Linked DNA regions of Homo sapiens. The protein of the gene in region 2 purifies or fractionates together with the protein of the main gene of each other region. This does not show direct contact. Each region holds a gene or a part of one and is shown on either strand. Other genes may lie near its edges.

Region 1 (4,234 bases), on a different chromosome or scaffold from region 2:
CCTGGGGTTCCTTTCCTGGAGCAGGCAGCACTGTACTGCGTGCAGGGCGGGTGAGACCGCCAGGGACACAACTGCAGAGGTGAAAGGCCGGCACTCCAAGGTCGCGGTCTGCGCTTCCGTGAAACACTTGTGGTCGAGCGAGGCCAGGCCGTGGTCTTGGTGTGGGAGTCACCAGGCTGGGTTTTCTTTTGTTTTTTGAGAGAGGGTCTCGCTGTGTCACCCAGGCTGGTATGCAGTGATGTAATCACAGCTCATTGTGGCCTCAACCTTCTGGGCTCAAGCAATCCTCCCGGCCCAGCCTCCCAAGTACCTGGGACTGTGGGTGTACTACCGTAGCCAGATAATGTTGCTTTTTTGCAAAGACAGAGTCTCGCTAAGTTGCCCAGGCTGGTCTTAACCTCCTAGGCTCAAGTGATCCTCCTGCCTTGGTCTCTCCAAGTGCTGGGATTACAGGAGTGAGTCCCTGCTATGATCCATGCTAGGGATGACCCCCCAGCCCAGGGCTGCAACCTCAGCCCACAGGGGACACTCAGCCAGAAGGCATCACCCAGGCCCTGATCCCAGGGCCTGCCCAGCGGCACTGCCCACACACACCTGGCGGGTCGTGGAAGAGGCTCACCACGCTCTTCTCCGGGGTGTTGAAGAAGGCCGCAGCCATGGAGTTGTACTCGCCATCTGCACAAAAGAGCTGTGGGGTCGGGAGAGAGCACACGTTGGGAGGGGAGATGAGCTGGTGGGCTGCAGGCACAAACCTGGTGTCGCCGTGAGAGGCCGTGTACCCTGTGCCTGGCCAGCATCAGGCGCGAAACCACACGATCCTGCCATTGGGTCAGGGCCACGGTCACAGAGGGCAAGGAGGACACACAAGGCCCAAGCCATGGTCACGGAGGGAAAGGAGGACACACACGGCCTAGGCCCAGCAGGGGGCCGTGTCTAGCCCTGGGGGGTGGGTTAGCAGGACCATGGGCTGAGACGCTGTCCATCCCTGGTGCCGGGGAAGGTGGGCCCAGGCGCTCACATGAGCTCCTAGAAGAGGCTGTTGGCGCCCCGGTGCCACAGGCCCAGAGCCTCCTGGGCTCCAGCAGCACAGGGGGTGTTATCCACGGGGCTGGAGCAGAGTGTAGCAAGGCTGGTCAACCCCATGGCCCCGGGCCTCCCACGTCTCTAACGGTTCACACCTGACCCGTCCCATCCTGCCCACTCCCGCCGTGGCACCCACTGGTCTGCTGGGCCTCTAGGCTCTCCCTGTTCTGGATGTTTCATGTTAATGGGGCTACGTCGCGTGACCTCACGTGTGGTTCCTCTGAGCGTAGTGCTTTCCAGGGCAACCGTGTCACAGTGCAGATGGACGCACGGACGGCGGTGAGCCGTGAGCGCCAGGCACAGGTCCAGTTGTGGACGGAGGTTTGCATTTCTCCTGGGTCCACATCTATGGTGCCCCCATAGGGCGCCTGAGGCTCGCCCCGTCAGGCTGCCATTCTGGGAAGAGGACTGGGGGGAGCCTCTGGCCCCCATACCACCGCCCATTCCCCTGGCACCTCAGCAGACACCTGGCCTCCTCTGAGATCTGGGTGGACAGGACTAACCCTCTTTGAGACACGCCAGCCCATGCGCTTCTGGAACTCGGCGGGGTGGGCAGCCCTCCTCCCGTAGCCTAAGCGAGCCTCCTGGAGGCCGCCCTGTGGCTGCCCTGCCTGCTGGACCCCGCCCGGGCCCAGCCTCCCACCTGCAGCGGGTAGGACATGGAGCCCCCCTGCAGGGGCTGGCAATCCCGCGACGAGTAGATCAGCACGAAGGCAACTGTGGCCGTGACGGCGGCCACCAGCACGGCCTCAATCACCTGCAGGCAGGGCCGGTGGATGTACCTGGAACCAAGAATCAGGCTGCATGGCAGGCAGGACGGCAGCGCGGCCCCTCCGCAGGCCCCATGGCAACTCGAGTCCCTGATGGAGGACACTGGGCCCGTGGTGCTTTTTGTTTGTTTGTTTTTGTTTTTGAGACGGAGTTTTGCTCTTGTTGCCCAGGCTGGAGTGCAGTGCTGCGATCTTGGCTCACTGCAACCTCCACCTCCCAGGTTCAAGCAATTGTCTTGCCTCAGCCTCCCGAGTAGCTGGGATTACAGGCGCCCGGCTCTACATCTGGCTAATTTTTTTTTGAATTTTTTAGTAGAGACGGGGTTTCTCCATGTTGGTCAAGCTGGTCTAGAACTCCCGACCTCAGGTGATCCACCCGCCTCGGCCTCCCAAAGTGCTGGGATTATAGTCGTGAGGCACCGCGCCCGGCCAGGCCTGTGTTTAATCATCAATCAGGCACCCAAATGTCCTGGGGTCGTCCTCTTCCCTGGGGTAAAGACTCCTCGGCAGCAACTTCTCCAGATGTGTGGGAAGTGGCGCTACCCGTGCCCCGGCTGTACCCGACAGTATTGAAATCAGCACAGACCAAGAAGGAAGAAGCCGGGGGGCCCCGGTGTCCCAGGACAGCTGCGGTTGCTACCAGGCAGAGCCAGGCGGTGAAGGTTGGGCATGCCTCGCCCAGGCCCGATCCCACGCAGGGCCTCACTTCCTACCCAGGGGCCGTCCTCCAGGAGCCCTCGCACTCCTAGCCTTGGGCTAGTCCGTCACCCTCCAGGCCCCGGGACACATCTCTGACCAGCTCCACCGGGGAAACCATCAGGAAGGACGCTGCATACACAGCCTTTCTTTCGGCTGTGGCCTAGGAGTGTAAACCCCATTCCACCACGTCCGCTTTCAAAGGGCCTGTGTGGCCACGCCTGCCAACGCGATATGCAATGCGGTTTCTCCTCACCTGATTCGAAACATGGTCAGCCAGTAGTTCAAGGCATTGAACACTGCTCCAAGCACACCGCCTGCGAACAGGGGAAAGGCCAGTCAGCGACACCGGAGGAAAAGTGCGGGCCTCCGCCCGCCGGCTCCCAGATGGCAGGAGAAGCTGGAGGGTTTGCAGAGGGAAGGGGACGGCAGGGGGCTAGGGGGTCCTGGTAAGATGCTTCCTCCACATCATCACACCCTGAGGGCTGGGGGAGCTGTTTCTCAAAGGCTCTGCCTTCCTTCCAGGGCAAAGGTGTCCAGCAGAGCAATAAATACTGGTGGGAGCAATTCTATCTCTTACAGGAAATCCCATCCATCCCTGCAGCCCTGTGGTTTTTGCCAACAGAGATAAACAACGGGAAGCCACAGAAGCGAAGCTTTGGGCTCCCCACTCCCCACGTGTACTGCCCATGGAAGAATCTGGAGGCCCCCGGGTGGCCCTGGGATGAGGGCAGGCTCCAGGGAGCCACAGCCTCCAGTCCTCGTCTCTATGGCCACGTCACAGCTGAGCCAGGCCCGCAGGCCGTCCCTGCGGTGCTGGGAGAAGCCCTTACCCACCACGCCCATGGCGATGAAGACCGGGATCTCGTGGATCGTGTAGGCCATTTTCTGTGCAGAGAGAGGGAGAAGGCAGAGGATGTGAGGGAAAAGGCCCACAGCTCCTTTCTGCTGAAACTCAAGGACCACCATCTTAAGAGAGCTGTCCCCACAGAGAGCCTTCCCGCCCTTCCACGCAGGCTGCGGAAGTCCACAGGGGAGAAACACACTGGGTGTTCTGAGCAGGCCTGGCCCCTGCCTGGCGGGGTGGCCAGCGAGGCTCTCAGAGACCCTGCCACCCTCAGCACCCGGGGCGGGGAGGGCCCCAAGCACTGGGAACATAGCCCGTGGTCCCCCAGTTTCCTGCGCACAGAGCCGCCCTATCGATGGCACGGAGAGTCTCCCCAGCCCAGGCCCCAGGCTACCCTGGAAACTAGGCCTGAGCCCACCTGCCCCGAGAGCGGCTGCTGCACGTGCCCCCAGGCCGTGGGAGGCCCCATGCACGCAGCAACTGTGTGACATCCCAGGTGCCCTGCTGGTCACATGGTGCCCTGACCTGAGGGGCAGCTTGGGGTGTCTTCCTGCAGCCCCTCGGGGCCCTGGAGCTTACACAAGAGCTCTCAGCTCCACAGCTATCAACCAGAGTTTTCTAAAGGACCAAATTCTCAACCTGGGCCTTAAGCAAACAGGGTCCTGGACCAGGATACGAGGTGGGCGAGGTGGGCGATGGGGCAGGTTACCTCCGAGTCAAACCTTCCGAAGTTGATGAGGCCTGGGCTGGACAGGTCCCACATGTTCCCGTGGTAAATGCTCAGAACAAAATTCAGGGTGAACGTGGAGATCATGGAAGCAAAGAACTGCGGCAGAGG
Region 2 (5,632 bases):
CAAGGCAGTGTGAGTTTGCCCACATCCTGCATTCATGATAAACAGTTCGCTGTTTGATCATATAGCCTCCAGCGGAATGCTGAGTTGGTCACGTCCCGCGGGCCTTTGGCTCCCTGCAGGGTAACTCTGTCTTAGGATAACTCTTAGGCTCCACCTTAGGGTAACTCTGTCTTAGGCTCTTAAACTCTTAGGGTAACTCTTAGGCTCTGTCTTAGGGTAACTGTCTTAGGCTCTGTCTTAGGGTAACTGCCCTGTCTTAGGGTAACTCAATTCTTCATCACAGCTGCAGGTCACCTACTTGCAGAGGAAGAGTCTGCTTTAGTCACCTGCCACGTGGACAAGCTTGGGTGCATCCTAAGGATGTCGGTTCAGAGGGAGAAGGTGGCTGGGTGTCATGTGTTTAGTCCCTTTTCCAGCTTCACCAGACAGGCAGGTCACTGCTGCCACAGGGAGAGGGGCTGAGGGGCAAAGGGCACCTCTGTGGTCACTCTTGCCTGGAGACACAAGGCCCTCCTGAAGGACCCCTCAACACTTAGGAGCATTAGTACAGCGGGATTAAGGGCTTTTTTTTTCTTCAAATTGGACAGAGGGACAGACTGCTGAGGAATACATGTGGATTCTTTCCTTCTGTGACACTCTGAAAGAATTGTGACTGGGGCATGGGGTGCCACCTTCAGAGGCAGGAGTGTTTAGGAAATGCCACAGTGGCACATGACCTGCGTGGGCTCCAGCAGCAGCAGCAACCTGCAGGGTAGATAGGGCAGCTGAGAACACGAGAGCAGAAGGGCGGTGACTCTATCATCTCGGAGGGTTCTGTTCAAACAACATTTTCTAGTATACAATGAAAAGAGACCTGGTGCCAGGCATGGTGGCTCATGCCTCTAATCCCAGCACTTTGGGAGGCCGAGGCAGGTGGATTACCTGAGGTTGGGAGTTCGAGCGAGACCAGGCTGGCTAACGTGGCGAAACCTCATCTCTACTAAAACTACAAAAATTAGCCAGGATTAGGCACGCGCCTGTAATCCTCAGCTCCTTGGGAGACTGAGGCAGGATAACTGATTGAACCCAGGAGGTGGAAGCTGCAGTGAACCGAGATGGTGCCACTACACTCCATCCTGGGTGACACAGTGAGACTCTCAAAAAAAAAAAAAAAAAAAAAAGAGGCCTGCTAGTACTCATCTCATAGGGCTGTTAGGAGGAGTAAGTGAAATCAGACATACAAAGCATTTAGCTCAGCTCAACCAACGCTCATTCTCGCCTTGTCCCCACTGCATAGCCCCTAACCCCAAATATCCCAACATAGCTCATAACAATAAGATTCTTGTTTCCCCAACATGTTTAATTTTAAGAATAGAGATAATGGTCAACTCTTGAGAAGAACCAAATGCTGGTGCCATCTTGGAAGTGCTACATCACCTCCTCCTCTTACTTCCTTGAACAGCAATATTTCTGGATTTCTTCTGCAAGCCCCAGGCAGTGCAGGATGCGTTTCTTTTCAGCAGCCAGTTCCTTCTCAGAGAACTGGCCCAAGAGTTTCTGGACAAATATATTTTGATCTTTCAGAAATATGTTCTTATTCACTCCTACATTTGGCACATTCTCCAAGGACCCAGACTTGAAATGGAAGCTTAAATATCTGTTTCGTTTTAGACCAGGTCCTTTTTCTTCAATCCATGACAGTGGACTGCAAAGACAAAAGACAAAAGAATCATGTTAGAGATTACACAAGAGCACAAGTGGGTGCTTGCTGGCACCAGACCGCCTGGTAACATGTCCTTGTCAGGCACCCATCCTCCTTGCAGCCACCAGCCTCCCAGAGGCTGTGGGTGACTGTGTCAACCTCACAGCCAAACAGTCTTTAATTTAATTTTGCCATCAGGCAGGGGAATTCATTCAGTGACTTTTTTTTTTCTGGGATGGAGCCTTGCTCTGTCACCCAGGCTGGAGTGCAGTGGTGCAATCTCGACCCACTGCAACCTCTGCCTTCTGGGTTCAAGCAATTTTCCTGCCTCAGCCTCCCAAGTAGCTGGGATTACAGGCGCCTGCCACCATGCCTGGCTACTTTTTAAAAAAATATTTTTAGTAGAAATGGGGTTTTGCCATGTCAGCCAGGCTAGTCTTGAATTCCTGACCTCAAGAGACCCACCTGCCTTGGCCTCCCAAACTGCTGGGATTACAGGCGTGAGCCACTGCACCTGGCCTCCCATGACTAGTTTTAAAAGCTCATAGTACAGTCTAGCAAATGTTCTGGGAGATGGCAACAAAGATTAACTTTTATTTTGGCACTGAATAAAAATAAACTTGAGGTATTCTACGTAGTCTGCCTAAGAAAATTTCTCATGTCTTTTTTTTGAGATGTTTGCTCTTGTTGCCCAGGCTGGAGTGCAGTGGTGCAATCTCGGCTCACTGCAACCTCTGCCTCCAGGTTCAAACGATTCTCCTGCCTCAGGCTCCCCAGTACCTGGGATTACAGGCACCTGCCACCACGCCTGGCTAATTTTTGTATTTTTAGTAGAGACAAGGTTTCACCATGTTGGCCAAGCTGGTCTTGAACTCTCAACTTCAGGTGATCCAACTGCCTTAGCCTCCCAAAGTGCTGGGATTACAGGCGTGAGCCATTGTGCCCGGCCTCTCATGTCCTTTTAAATAATATGGAATCTTGGGATTTGAGGGAATGCAGAATGTCAAGATCTTTCTTGTACCTCAATTTCCTCACTAGTAAAAATAAGTAATGGTAATAAGTATACAGCTTTACCTATCTTGCTGTGACATTGTGAGATAAAAATGCAGTTTGTGGCCAGGCGTGGAGGCTGATGTGGGTGGATCGCTTGAGCCCAGGAATTTGAGACCGGCCTAGACAGTATAGCAAAAACCCATCTTACCCAAAAATACGAAAATCAGCCAGTCTCATAACCCGGTCTCAAAATAAATAAATAAATAGATAAAAAAATTTAAAAATGCAATTTGGGACACGGAAAGTACTATGATTTTAAGAAGTTACTATTATATTATATTAACTGCTCTCTGTCCCAATCCCTCATCTGATGCTTGCCTCTCCTGTGCAAAAATGAGAGCCAGGGCTGGGTGCAGTGGCTCATGCGTGTAATCTCAGCATTTTGAGAGGCCAAGGTGAGCAGATCACTTGAGGTCAGGAGTTCAAGACCATCCTGACCAACATGGTGAAACCTTGTCTCTACTAACAATACAAAAATGAGCCGGGCGTGGTGGCAGGCGCCTATAATCCCAGCTACTCGGGAGGCTGAGGCAGGACAATCACTTGAACCCGGGAGATGGAGGTTGCAGTGAGCTGAGATCACACCACCGCACTCCAGCCTGGGTGACAGAGCAAGACTTTGTCTCATAAAAAAAAAAAAAAAAGAGAGAGAGAGTCAGCCTCTGCCTCCCCAACATCTTGCTTCCTCATTGACTTCTACTCAACTTCAAGACCAAACAAGGCACCGCCTCCCATCAGAACCATGAGCTGACCTAGTCCAGGTTCCCCTTCCCTGTGCTCCTACAGCACCCTACAGTATCTTTACCTCTAATTACAGGGTGCTACAACTGTCTGTGTATAGGTCTGACCACGGCTGCAATCCTAACACTCACATGGCCACACCAGAGCCCGGGCCACCACTGTTGGTCACTCCATAGGGAGCACTGCCAAGTTCCATGTGCTTTGCTTTCATCTGCCAGGCCTCTCTGCCTTTTCCTAGCGAAGAAGAAACTCCTCAAAATGGACTAGATCAGGCTTCATTCAGGAACTCAAATTCTTTTTTCTTTTTAAAATACCCAGTGTCTGCTTCTTTTACTACCAGGAGACCCACCTCTCTGCAAAGGCATCCAGAAACACTCTAAAACCCTTACTGTTCTAAATAATTTACAGAGCCCAGGTGCTTTGGGAGGAAAATTATGAATGTGCTTTTGTTAAAAAAGACCTGGTATGAGAAATAAGTCAGAATGTTTTGGGAACAGTGTGACAGGGTGATGGGATGCTAAAGCTGAAACACAGACCCTCACACTCTGGCTGCACTGAGGGGTGAATGTGTGGCCCTGCGGGGAACATGTACAGTGTTAATGGCAGGGTCTAGGGAGTAGGTGGATGGGTGTTTACTTAAAAATTCTTTCAACTTCACAATATGCCCGAAAACTTTCATAAGAAAACACAGGAAAAAAATCAGGTCACAGAGTTAACATAATTTCTTTTTCTTTTCTTTTTTTTCAAGAAGGAGTCTCGCTCTGTTGCCCAGGCTGAAATGCAGTGGCCTGATCTCAGCTCACTGCAACCTCTGCCTCCCAGGTTCAAGCAATTCTCCTGCCTCAGCCTGCCAAGGAGCTGGGACTGCAGGCATGCACCGCCACACCGGCTAATTTTTGCATTTTTAGTAGAGACAGGGTTTCACCATGTTAGCCAGGCTGGTCTCAAACTCCTGACCTCAGGTGATCCACCACCCTTGGCCTCCCCAAGTGCTGGGATTATAGGCCTGAGCCACCACGCCCAGCCAAGGTAATGTAATTTCCACTACTAATCTGCTATGAATGACTTGCATGACTTAGGCAACCTGCTGGCATTCTGTAAGCCTCTGTCTACTGACTGGCAGATGGGATTATGTTTGTCTTCTTTACCTCACAGGGCTGCTGAGAGGATGAGATGAGGCAACACAAGTGCAATCTCAGCACTCCATCTGCAGAAGCAGACAGCCCTTCTGGAGCTGGGAGTGAGGGTCTAGCCCCTCGGGGCTCCCTTTGGATCATACCTGCAAATGTACTAGGATGTCCTTAAATTTCCTCCTCCTCATGGCTTCTCATGACTTACCTTTTCTTCTCTGTCTCCAGACACACTGTCATTTTCATATACTGATCTTCCTTTCGCTCTTCCAAAGTGGCAGACACAAGAGAAAGCTCCCCAAAGAGGGAGACCAGCCAGGTCAGGCGAGAGATGCCGCTGAATGCAGGGAAGCCAAACCGCTCTTCTTCCAACGGGCCAGCTGTGGGAAATCACAAATGCTGTGGGAACTGGGAAGCAGGAATGCCAAGTGGAAAGCAGGACAGGGGGGTGGGGGTGGCGGGGGTGTGAAAAGATGTGGCCGAGTGATCAGTACAATGGGACCTTGCCTTATGTGGTAGGCAGGCAACGTGATTAATGATACTGATGAAAACTCAGGTGGCTGAACTTCAACTCTATCATAAAAGCATCTCTGTCTTTTCCTGTTTATTAAATTGAGTTTTAGTAAAACATTCTACTGGAAACAGCAGTCAATCCAGCCAAACAGGATAATAAAAAAGTTTCAGGCTTCTAATATATACATCTATGTACACATATGTAGATATACATACACACACACACACACACAACACATACCTACATATACATATATATATATCCTCTTTAGTGATTTAAAGTAGTCTGGTAAAAGTAGAAGAATCAAAGTATTTTAGCCCTGCAAGCCTGTATTCTTATAACTACCTGATGTGTAAGTGGCAATAAGGTATGAAGGTATTATAATAGCTATGGAGAAAATGGTAATACCTTTGAGCTATTTCAATATCAAGAAAATTGATACAATGTTAAATGTTTTCTTAGTCTTCCTAATCTTGTGAACAAAAAAGTACACTCAAAAGAGTATTGGGGCCA

Evidence for each region. Proteins that work in one complex are often made in the same cells at the same time.
Region 1: the proteins of BLVRA (region 2) and CLCN7 purify together in Homo sapiens (affinity purification with mass spectrometry; one large-scale study listed by BioGRID and IntAct). This does not show direct contact.

Annotation. Positions count from the first base shown.
Region 1 is NC_000016.10:1,451,029-1,455,262, forward strand, and holds part of CLCN7 (H(+)/Cl(-) exchange transporter 7), read right to left. Parts: intron 4,223-4,234; coding exon 4,106-4,222; intron 3,438-4,105; coding exon 3,383-3,437; intron 2,867-3,382; coding exon 2,806-2,866; intron 1,866-2,805; coding exon 1,727-1,865; intron 689-1,726; coding exon 595-688; intron 1-594. UniProt on the Homo sapiens protein: Slowly voltage-gated channel mediating the exchange of chloride ions against protons. Functions as antiporter and contributes to the acidification of the lysosome lumen and may be involved in maintaining lysosomal pH.
Region 2 is NC_000007.14:43,803,029-43,808,660, reverse strand, and holds the end of BLVRA (biliverdin reductase A), read right to left. Parts: intron 4,986-5,632; coding exon 4,814-4,985; intron 1,685-4,813; coding exon 1,426-1,684; 3' UTR 1,319-1,425; downstream 1-1,318. UniProt on the Homo sapiens protein: Reduces the gamma-methene bridge of the open tetrapyrrole, biliverdin IXalpha, to bilirubin with the concomitant oxidation of a NADH or NADPH cofactor. Does not reduce bilirubin IXbeta.